3 linked regions of the Homo sapiens genome follow. The protein of the gene in region 2 purifies or fractionates together with the protein of the main gene of each other region. This does not show direct contact. Each region holds a gene or a part of one and is shown on either strand. Other genes may lie near its edges.

What was found. The genes of interacting proteins can lie anywhere in the genome.
Region 1: the proteins of SLC7A6OS (region 2) and ECD purify together in Homo sapiens (affinity purification with mass spectrometry, with the first as the bait; one large-scale study listed by BioGRID). This does not show direct contact.
Region 3: the proteins of SLC7A6OS (region 2) and MTHFD1 purify together in Homo sapiens (affinity purification with mass spectrometry, with the first as the bait; one large-scale study listed by BioGRID). This does not show direct contact.

What each region holds. Positions count from the first base shown.
Region 1 is NC_000010.11:73,151,009-73,154,508, forward strand, and holds part of ECD (protein ecdysoneless homolog), read right to left. Parts: intron 3,441-3,500; coding exon 3,248-3,440; intron 1,414-3,247; coding exon 1,285-1,413; intron 698-1,284; exon of another isoform or gene 1-697. UniProt on the Homo sapiens protein: Regulator of p53/TP53 stability and function. Inhibits MDM2-mediated degradation of p53/TP53 possibly by cooperating in part with TXNIP. May be involved transcriptional regulation. In vitro has intrinsic transactivation activity enhanced by EP300.
Region 2 is NC_000016.10:68,304,447-68,307,946, forward strand, and holds part of SLC7A6OS (probable RNA polymerase II nuclear localization protein SLC7A6OS), read right to left. Parts: intron 1-3,500. UniProt on the Homo sapiens protein: Directs RNA polymerase II nuclear import.
Region 3 is NC_000014.9:64,412,353-64,415,852, reverse strand, and holds part of MTHFD1 (C-1-tetrahydrofolate synthase, cytoplasmic), read right to left. Parts: intron 3,382-3,500; coding exon 3,328-3,381; intron 496-3,327; coding exon 359-495; intron 215-358; coding exon 114-214; intron 1-113. UniProt on the Homo sapiens protein: Trifunctional enzyme that catalyzes the interconversion of three forms of one-carbon-substituted tetrahydrofolate: (6R)-5,10-methylene-5,6,7,8-tetrahydrofolate, 5,10-methenyltetrahydrofolate and (6S)-10-formyltetrahydrofolate.

The DNA of each region.
Region 1 (3,500 bases), on a different chromosome or scaffold from region 2:
AGCCATCCCATTACTGGGTATATGCCCAAAGGATTATAAATCATGCTGCTATAAAGACACATGCACACGTATGTTCACTGTGGCACTATTCACAATAGCAAAGACTTGGAACCAACCCAAATGTCCAACAATGATAGACTGGATTAAGAAAATGTGGCACATATACACCATGGAATACTATGCAGCCATAAAAAATGATGAGTTCATGTCCTTTGTAGGGACATGGATGAAGCTGGAAACCATCACTCTCAGCAAACTATTGCAAGGACAAAAAACCAAACACCGCATGTTCTCACTCATAGGTGGGGAATTGAACAATGAGAACACACGGACACAGGAAGGCGAACATCACACACCGGGGCCTGTTGTGGGGTGGGGGGAGGGGGGAGGGACAGCATTAGGAGATATATCTAATATAAATGACGAGTTAATGGGTGCAGCACACCAACATGGCGCGTGTATACGTATGTAACAAACCTGCACGTTGTGCACATGTACCCTAAAACTTAAAGCATAATAATAAAAAAAAAAAGAAAATCTAGACATTCCTATCAATGTCTAGATTGTAACATTTTTGAAAGCAAACAAAAAAAAAAGAAAAACACTATTTTGTAGCTTTAAAGTGCATTTCTTTTATTATGAGTTAAGATTCAATATTTTTCATATGTTTAAATTAAAGGTCACCTGTATTTCCTTTTCTGTGGACTATGTTCATAGTTCTGAACATTTTAAAATTAATTGGCTAGTATTATCATTTTCATATTGACTTAAAGGAACACTTTATGTATTAGAGAAGTCAGCTCTTTTTCATTTAGATTGCAAATATAACACTTTTTCCAGATTTGCTTTTGACTTTATTTATGGAGTTTTTCTTTCCCGTGCAGAAATGCTTAATTTTTGCATAATCAAATTCATCAGTCTTCCCTTTATAGCTTCTGGTTTCAAGTCATGCATAGAAAGGCCTTTCCTATTCAAATTATAAAAGGTTCTTGGTTTTTTTTCAAATTGTATAGTTTCAATTTTTATGTTCAAATATTTGATCCAATTGGAATTTATTTTGGTATAGGTATTAGGGAATCAACTTCAATTTTTCAGATGACTTCAGACTTGTCCCATCATCACTTACTAAGTAATCCATTTTTTTCATTCTAATTTGAAATGCCACATTTTACTGCATTCTTACATAAACAGGGTGTATTTCTGGACTTTGTATATTGTGCCACTATTCTATTAAGAGTCCATTTACATAAAGAAAGGAAACAACATTTTCTGGTTCAACATTACCAATTTCATGCCCAATTCATGGGCTCGGTACTGGGGATCAGATGGAGGAGGCAGCCTGTATCCACTCCGCCGGTCTGGCACAAACCTTTGTTGCACCAATTGTGCATATAGACATTTAGTGAATGTGACCTGGGCATCAAGACACAAAATACATGAGTCTTTTCCTGAAATTAAGATTGTGAATAACACTTCACAGTTAAATATAATGAGAAGTCCATTTATAAGCTTCATATTCATATGAAATGCAAAGAAGATTCAACCTATTCATTGCCTACTTGTTTTTAGTAACAGCTTTATTGAGATACAACTCACATACCATAAAATTTACCCTACTGCTGGCCAGGCATGGTGGTTCATGCCTGTAATCCCAACACTTTGGGAGGCCAAGGTGGGCAGATCATCTGAGGTCAGGAGTTTGAGACCAGCCTGGCCAACATGGTGAAACCCCATCTCTACTAAAAATACAAAAATAAGCCAGGCATGGTGGCGCACGCCTCTAATCCCAGCTACTCGGGAGGCTGAAGCAGGAGAATTGCTTGAACCCGGGAGGTGGAGGAAGTTGCAGTGAGCTGAGATTGCTCCACTGCACTCCGGCCTGGGCAACAGAGCAAGACACTGTTGCAAAAAAAATTTTACCCTACTGCCTACTTTTTAGTAATCGCTAGTAAAATTCTTATCATTAGTTACATTATACAGCAATTAAATGGCTGGAAGATAAAGATAATTCATTTTTTCTATTTCTGAGACAGGGTCTTGCTCTGTTGCAGAGACTGGAGTGCAGTGAGCAATCATGGCTCACTGAAGCCTCAGGGATAGGGTTTCACCATGCTGGCCAGGCTGGTCTCAAACTCCTGACCTCAGGTGATCTGCCCACCTTGGCCTCCCAAACCTCCTGGGGTCAAGCAATCCTCCTACCTCAGCCTCCGAAGTAGCGGGGATTACAGGCGCCCACCACCACACCTAGCTAATTTTTTTATTTTTTGTAGCGATGGGGTTCACCATGTTGCCCAGTCTGGTCTCAAACACGTGGGTTCAAGTGATCCACCTGCCTTGGCCACCCAAAGTGCTGGGATTACAGGTGTGAGCCACCATGCCCGGCCAAGAATAATTCTTAATTCTCTGGAAGAGATGAAATGTTTTATTGTTAAGAAGGAAATAATTAGGCTGGGTGCGGTGGCTCACACCTGTAATCCCAGCACTTTGGGAGGCTGAGGTGGGTGAATCACTTGAGGTCAGGAGTTCGAGACCAGTCTGGCCAACATGGCGAAACACCATCTAAAAATAAAAAAATCAGCTGGGCGTGTTGGGAGGTGACTGTAATCCCAGCTACTCGGGAGGCAGGAGAATCGCTTGAGCCCAGGAAGCAGAGGTTGCAGTGAGCTGAGATGGCTCCACTACACTCCAGCCTGGGTGAGAGAGTGAGACTCTGTCTCAAAAAAAAAAAAAAAAAAAAAAAAGGAAATAATTATAGAAATAGAAACATATGGTCAAAAATAGCTATAAAACATTGAGTATAAAATGGGGAGGCAGGTCTCTTGAAAATTTCCTTCACTGGGTGCAAGAAAAGAAAAAACGTGTATAGTTTGAGCATCCCAAATGTAAATATCTGAAATCTAAAATGTTCCAAAATCCAAAACTTTTTGAGTCCCAACGATATGCTCAAAGTTTTGAGATTTCAGAATTTTCAGATTTGGGATGCTCAAGTAGTAAGTTTAATGCAAATATTCCAAAATCCAAATAAATCTGAAATCTGAAATACTTCTAGTCCCAAGCATTTCAGATAAGGAATATTCAATCTATATTAACATGCTATGAAGAAACAGAATATTTCCTTTTTTTTCTAGAGAACAATTAAAATAATGTTTCATTCACTGAGCACTGAGAAATGTAAAAAGAAAAAAATAATAATGTTTCAACTCGGTTTCCAGTAAGAGAAACTAAATGACCAAGATAGAAATCTCACCGATGTCATTATTCGTGTTTCAGGCAAGAATGTCTTGAAAACACGACAAGCTCGCAGGTCAATAGGGTCTCGTAGGTAAAATGCCTGGACTGCTGCAGCCACCAATCTGGGGCGCTGCTTTAGCACTGCCACAATGCCAGCTGGAAGGAAGCAGTGTGCTCGATGAAGTGAGGCCTGAATTTTTTCTGGGTACCTGGGACAGGTAACATAATTACTTTCATTTTACAGTATATAAATACCTATAATTCTTATA
Region 2 (3,500 bases):
AGTAGCTGGGACTACAGGTGCGTGCCACCATGCCTGGCTAATTTTTTGTATTCTTAGTAGAGATGGGGTTTCACTGTGTTAGCCAGGATGGTTTTGATCTCCTGACCTCAAGTAATCTGCCCGCCCCAGCCTCCCAAAGTGCTGGGATTACAGGTGTGAGCCACCTTGCTCAGCTACAGTTCCATAGTGTTGTGGTCAAGATTCTTATCCCCATGAATTCCTAGTCTTTTAATTAATTATTACATTAAAAAATCAAGAATCTCTGTAAAATTAATGTGTAGTTCTTACTTTAAGATAGAAACGTACAAGATAGGCTCCTGCTCTTTTGTGCTTGGCTCTCACACCTATAATCCCAATGCTTCGGGAAGCCAAGGTGGACAGCTTGCTTGAGCCCAGAAGCTCAAGACCAGCCTGGCCCACATGGCAAAACCCCCGTCTCTACAAAGAAATACAAAAATTAGCTGGGTGTGGTGGTGTGCACCTGTAGTCCCAGGTACTCAGGAGGTTGAGGCTGCAGTGAGCCGTGATCATGCCACTGTACTCTATCCTGGGTGACAGATTAAGACTTATCTCAAAACAATGAAAGAAAAAAAATATGGGAAGACTGGCCTAAGGAGAGGGGAAAGACAGAAGACCTGGCCAGTCTTGACCCCAAGCTCTGAGTCAGACCTGCTTCTATAGGTCTTCTGAGATCCTTTGGTATTATACAATGTTCTCTCTTTGGGGATCAGTAGGTCCACCGTAGCACCCCTATGGCTGAACCTGAAATGAGTCTCTATTTTGTGTGGCCTCCTGTAGAAGCCAACAGGTGTTTCCTGGTGACCTCTACCATTGCCCATCATTTGGCTTGCCATATATTGACATCCTACTTTTAACCACAAATTGGGAATGGGCTCACCTATAGTCTTTCTACTGGAAAGAACAGTTTGAAATGCAATGCCCCAGAATAGAAATGGCCCAGGTAAGATGTGCTCCAGTGCTGACAGGCTGTATTATCCAGGGGCCTGGTAGCATGGGTCAGTTTATTAACCACAGGGACATGCTGCAGATGGCTCCTCTTGATAGGTTCATCACAGGACACTGCACAGCTCCAAGCAGACACCACGCAGGAAAATGGGGAAGATCCCATGGCCAAGGCAGACAAGGGGAGACCAATGCTATAATTTACAGACTAAGGAATTCTTCCTTGCTCCAAAGTCAAAAAGAAGCTAGAGATGCCAGTTTTTCTGCAGAACCTTGAGCAAACTTAAAGTTACCTATGACAAAAGTTCTGGCTCCAACCCCTAAGTCCCTCCACTCAGTCAAATTATGCAGCCATTAAAATATAAGATTGCTGGGCACAGTGGCTCATGCCTGTAATCACAGCACTTTGGGAAGCCAAGGTCGGAGGAATGTTTGAGCCCAGGAGTTTGAGACCAGCCTGGGCAACATGGCAAAACCGTCTCTACAAAAAATACAAAAATTAGCTGGGTGTGGTAGCGCAGGCCTGTGGCTCCAGCTACTTGAGAGGCTGAGGCAGGAGGATCACATGAGCCCAGGTGGAGGCTGCACCGAGCCGTGATCATGCCACTGCACTCCAGCCTGGGCAACAGAGCGAGACGCTGTCTCAAAAAAAGGTACAAGACTAGCAATACAGAAAAATGACAGATACAGAATTTTGTACTCAGAAGGAAATAAACCAGTTCTATTCTACCTACTTTTGGGTTGATGGTAAAATGGGAGATTTTCCTCCTTTGCTATATTTTTTCAAATTTCCCATAATGAGCATAAATTATTTTTTTTCTTTTTTGAGATGGAGTTTCGCTCTTGTCACCCAGGCTTGAGTGCAATGGCGTGATCTCAGCTCACTGCAACCTCTGCCTCCCGGGTTCAAGTGATTCTCCTGCCTCAGCCTCCTGAGTAGCTGGGATTACAGGTACGCACCACCATGCCTGGCCAATTTTTGTATTTTTAGTAGAGACCGGGTTTCACTATGTTGGTCAGGCTGGTCTCAAACTCCTGACCTCATGATCCACCCACCTTGGCCTCCCAAAGTGCTGGCATCACAGGCATGAGCCACCGCGCCCGGCCTATTATTGCTTAAAGAGGCGGTTTTCATTATGTTGCCCAAACTGGCCTTGAACTCCTAGCCTTAGATGATCTTTCTGTTTCAACCTCCTGAGTAGCTGGGACTAAAGGTGTGCACCACTCCTCCTAGCTAGAAGAAAAATAATTATTATTATTTCTGTAGAGATGGAGTCTTGCTATGTTGTTCAGGATGGTCTTGAACTTCAGGCCTCAAGCAATCCTCCTGCCTTAGCCTCCCAAAGTGCTAGGATTATAGGAGTAACCCACCGTACCCTTGCTGAAAATTATTTTGAAGTCTATGTCCATGTGTATTCATTCATTCATTCATTCATTCATTCATTCACTCAGAATCAGGGTCTTGCTCTGTCGCCCAGGCTGGAGGGCAGCAGTATGATCATGGCTCACTGCAGTCTTTAACTCCCGGGCTCAAGTGCTCCTTTCTTGGCCTCCCAAAGTATTGGGATTACAGGTGTGAACTACTGAGCCCAGCCCATATTTTCAGTTTCACTACACACAGCATTTTGTACTGTTAAACATATATATTTTCGCCCACAATCAGTTTTCATGGTTATCAGTTCTAAGGGTCCAGACAGTTGTATGTGTCAACCTCTTGGATATAATTTTTAACCTCCATGTATAGTGTTGCAATGAATGTGCCATTTCCTGCATTTGAAAAGTATCTCACTCATAAGGTTTTTGTGAGGATTAAATGAGTTAAATTAAAAGAAAATATAACAAGTACCTAGCACGCTATTTGACATAATTACTTAGTCAATCAACAGTAGCATTTGTTAATATCATAGCTTAGCTTAGCTGTTTGCTTCTGCTGAATTATCTCCCTAGGATAAATCTTGGAGGTGAGACTACTAGTTAAAAGGAACTGAAGTCCTTTAATTTTTAAATTTCCTATTAAATTTATCTAATAGGAATTTATTTGCTTAAAATGTAAATTGTGTCAATTTAAGGAGAAATTCATTGTAACATAACATAGAAATGCTGTCATTTTTAAATTTCCTTAGAAATTTTTAATTTTAAAATTTTCCTAGATTATGCATGGCTTTAGATCCAAACAATAATAAATTTACATATGTAAAACATGGCTCCCATGCCATCCTGTTTTCCAAAAGGCTTGCATCAATTTTATTCCTACAATTGTGTACGCTTTTAATCATTGCCTTGCCAGCATTGCTATCAACTACTTTTTTCCTGCTAGTCTAGTATGCATAAAACCTCAAGCATGCTTTAAGCTTAAATTCATTTTTCCCCTATAATTACTCTGTGCAAACATTTTTGGTATGTTTAGAGTCGGTATTGCTTTACTGGAAAAATCTCTGTTCATATCGGTCATCAGTTTATCTCCTAGTTTTCTTTATAAAATTAAATTAGCTATTTACTCTTGTTTTTTGAGATGGAGTTTTGCTCTTCTCGCCCAG
Region 3 (3,500 bases), on a different chromosome or scaffold from region 2:
GCCAATCAAGTCCATTTATTTATGGCCCACAATGTACCTCCTCTATGCCACCACATGTCAAGACCAGGATTCAGGAAATGGTGCTTTCTTGTTGTTTGGTTTGTTGTTTTTACCTGTCTCTTTGATGAGTTCCAAGCATCCCTTAGGCGTACAAGGAATGAAACAGTCATTGAGGTCACCTCTAGCAAGTTTCCCAGCATTGATGCTAGTCAATCTTAAAAAAGTGATGGAAATAAGAAGGAAATAAAGGCAATTAGATGTCTTTACTCTTTAGAAACATTTATGCTGTATTCCCCAAATAGAAACATATTATAAATGAAAGCATGCAATGAGACATAGGAAGCCAAGCCACACTTACCCATCCACATCCTTCTCGGGTGCAATAGCATTGATCACTTCTTCAGTGTTAATGGAATTCTCTGAATCTAAAGGTAGCTGCACTAAGAACCCATGTACAGTAGAGTCTTCATTCAAAGATGTAATGTACTTCATCACCTAAAAGTAATACCATATATAATTTGTATATCACACAGAAATCAAAAGGTAGGAAGAAACACTTTCTAAGGCAAAAATTAGGTTGCCCTATTTCCCCCCAACACTTTAATTATAGTCCTTTCAGAATGTACCTTCCCCTTGAATCCTGAGAGCACCTGTACTTTAACATAGAATGCATCCCCTAGGTGTCTGGTAAGAAGTCCATCAAATAAAAGAGCTAAGAGGCTGGGCGAGGTGTCTCATGCCTGTAATCCCAGCACTTTGGGAGGCCAAGTCAGGAGGATTACTTGAACCCAGGAGTTCAAGACCAGCCTGGACAACACAGTGAAATGTGATATCTACAAAAACTTTTTAAAAATTAGGGCCAGGGGCTGGGTGCGGTGGTTCACGACTGTAATTCCAGCACTTTGGGAGGCTGAGGTGGGTGGATCACCTGAGGTTGGGAGTTTGAGACCAGCTGGGCCAACATAGTGAAACCCTGTCTCTACTAAAAATACAAAATTAGCCAGGTGTGGTGGCACATGCCTGTAATCCTAGCTACTCGGGAGGCTGAGGCAGGAGAATTGCTTGAACCTGGGAGGTGGAGGTTGCAGTCCGCTGAGATAGTGCCACTGCACTCCAGCAGTGAGTTGAGATTGTGCCATTGCACTCCAGCCTGGGCAACAATAGTGAAACTCCACCTCAAAAAAAAAAAAAAAAAATTAGGGCTGGGTGTGGTGGCTCACACCTGTCATCCCAGCACTTTGGGAAGCCAAGGCAGGCCTCCCAAAATATAGAAAATTATTTTCTATAATTTGCACCTTACAATACAATAGCAGCTACTGGATCACTTGAAGCCAGGAGTTTGAAACCAGCCTGGCCAACATGGTGAAACCCTGTCTCTACAAAAATATAAAAAATAAGCCGGGCATAGTGGCGCATGCCTGTAATCTCAGCCTCTCAGGAGGCTGAGGCATGAGAATCGCTTGAACCCAGGAAGCGGAGGCTGCAGTGAGCTGAGATCATGCCACTGCATCCAGCCTGGGCAACAGAGCAAGACTCTGTCTCAAAAAAAAAAAAAAAAAAAAAAAAGCGGGGACAGGTGCGGTGGCTCACGCCTGTAATCCCAGCACTTTGGGAGGCTTGAGTGGGCAGATCACTTGAGGTCAGTAGTTTGAGACCAGCCTGGGCAATATGGGCAATTAAAAATACAAAAATTAGCTGGGCGTGGTGGCGCATGCCTGTAGTCACAGCTACTCAGGAGGCTGAGGCATGAGAATCGCTTGAACCTGGGAGGTGGAGGTTGCAGTGAGCCAATATTGCACCACTGCACTCTAGCCTGGGCGACAAGAGTAAAACTCTGCCTCAAAAATAAAATAAAATTAGCTGGGCATGGTGGCTCATGCCTATAGTCCCAGCTGCTCAAGAGGCTAAGGTGGGAGGATCACTTGAGCTTAGGAGGTTGAGGCTACAATGAGCTATGATCACACCACTGTGCTGCAGCTGAGGCAAAAGAGTGAGACCCTGTCTCTAAAAATACAATACAATAAAATAAAAAGAGCTAAGAACTCTAATAACTTATTACAGCAATAATACCCATGTTACAATCATCCAAATCAAGATGTAGAGCAGCAATGTCCAATCATCTTTTCTGCGATGGCAGAAATTTTCTATAATTTGCACCTTACAATACAATAGCAGCTACTTAATCCTTGCAAAGTGGCTAGTACAACCAAGGAAGTGAATTTTTAATTTTATTTCATTTTAACTAAATTCAAATAGCCTCATGGGGCTAGTGGCTCCCATACTGGACAGCGCATATATGGAACATTGCCATAACCTCAAGAAAGTTGCTTTATCCTCCTACAGTTTAGCATTAATCTCCCACCTACAGGCAACCACAGTTCTGACTTTAATCACCGCTGATTTGTTCTGCCTAGTCCTGAACCTCATATAAAAGGAATACATATTTGGTTTTTAGAATGCAGATAATTACAGGCCAAGGATCGGTTTTACCTATTTTTTTGAGACGGAGTTTTGCTCTTTTTTCCCAGGTTGGAGTGCAATGGTACGATCTTGGCTCACTGCAACCTCCGCCTCCCGGGTTCAAGTGATTCTCCTGCCTCAACCTTCCAAGTAGCTGGGATTACAGGCATGCGCCACCACGCCTGGCAAATTTTGTATTTTTTAGTAGAGACAGGGTTTCTCCATGTTGGCCAGGCTGGTCTCGAACTCCCGACCTCAGGTGATCTGCCCACCTCGGCCTCCCAAAATGCTGGGATTACAGGCATGAGCCACCGTGCCTGGCTCCAAGGATCAGTTTTAACAAACACAACAGATGATTTGGAAGCAAACAGTACTGCAGTCACACTTTGAGTACCAAATGTTCATCCCTGCACCATCTCCTCTGTGGGAGTCTGTGAAGAAAGAATACCTGGAGGTGCCAGGCGTGGTGGCTCACGCCTGTAATCCCAGCACTTTGGGAGGCCAAGGCGGGTAAATCACCTCAGGTCAGGAGTTCAAGACCAGCCTGGCCAACGTGGTGAAACCGCGTCTCTATTAAAAATATAAAAATTAGCCAGGTGAGGCGGTGGGCGCCTGTAATCCCAGCTACTCGGGAGGCTGAGGCAGGAGAATTGCTTGAACCTGGGAGGCGGAGGTTGCAGAGAGTCGAGATCGCATCATTGCTCTCCAGCCTGGGTGACATGAGCAAAACTGTGTCTCAAAAAAAAAAAAAAAAAAAATACCTGGAGGTCTTGGCTAAATGTGTCAGTCCCCAAAGCCCCCGTAAACCAAAACCAGAGAGGAAACCACTTCACCTTCCCTCTTCACAATCAACTCATAAAAGCTCACCTCAGATTCTGTGGTTGTTCTTGGTAACTTAATGTGAGTGGCTTTGATCCCAATCTGCAAAACAGACATTAAAAGCAGGTAAATGGCAAGACAACTTGAGATATTGAACCATTTCTTTTACAGACATGACTAACAAGCAAGGAGGTGTTGGTCATCATTTCACCCTTATATGT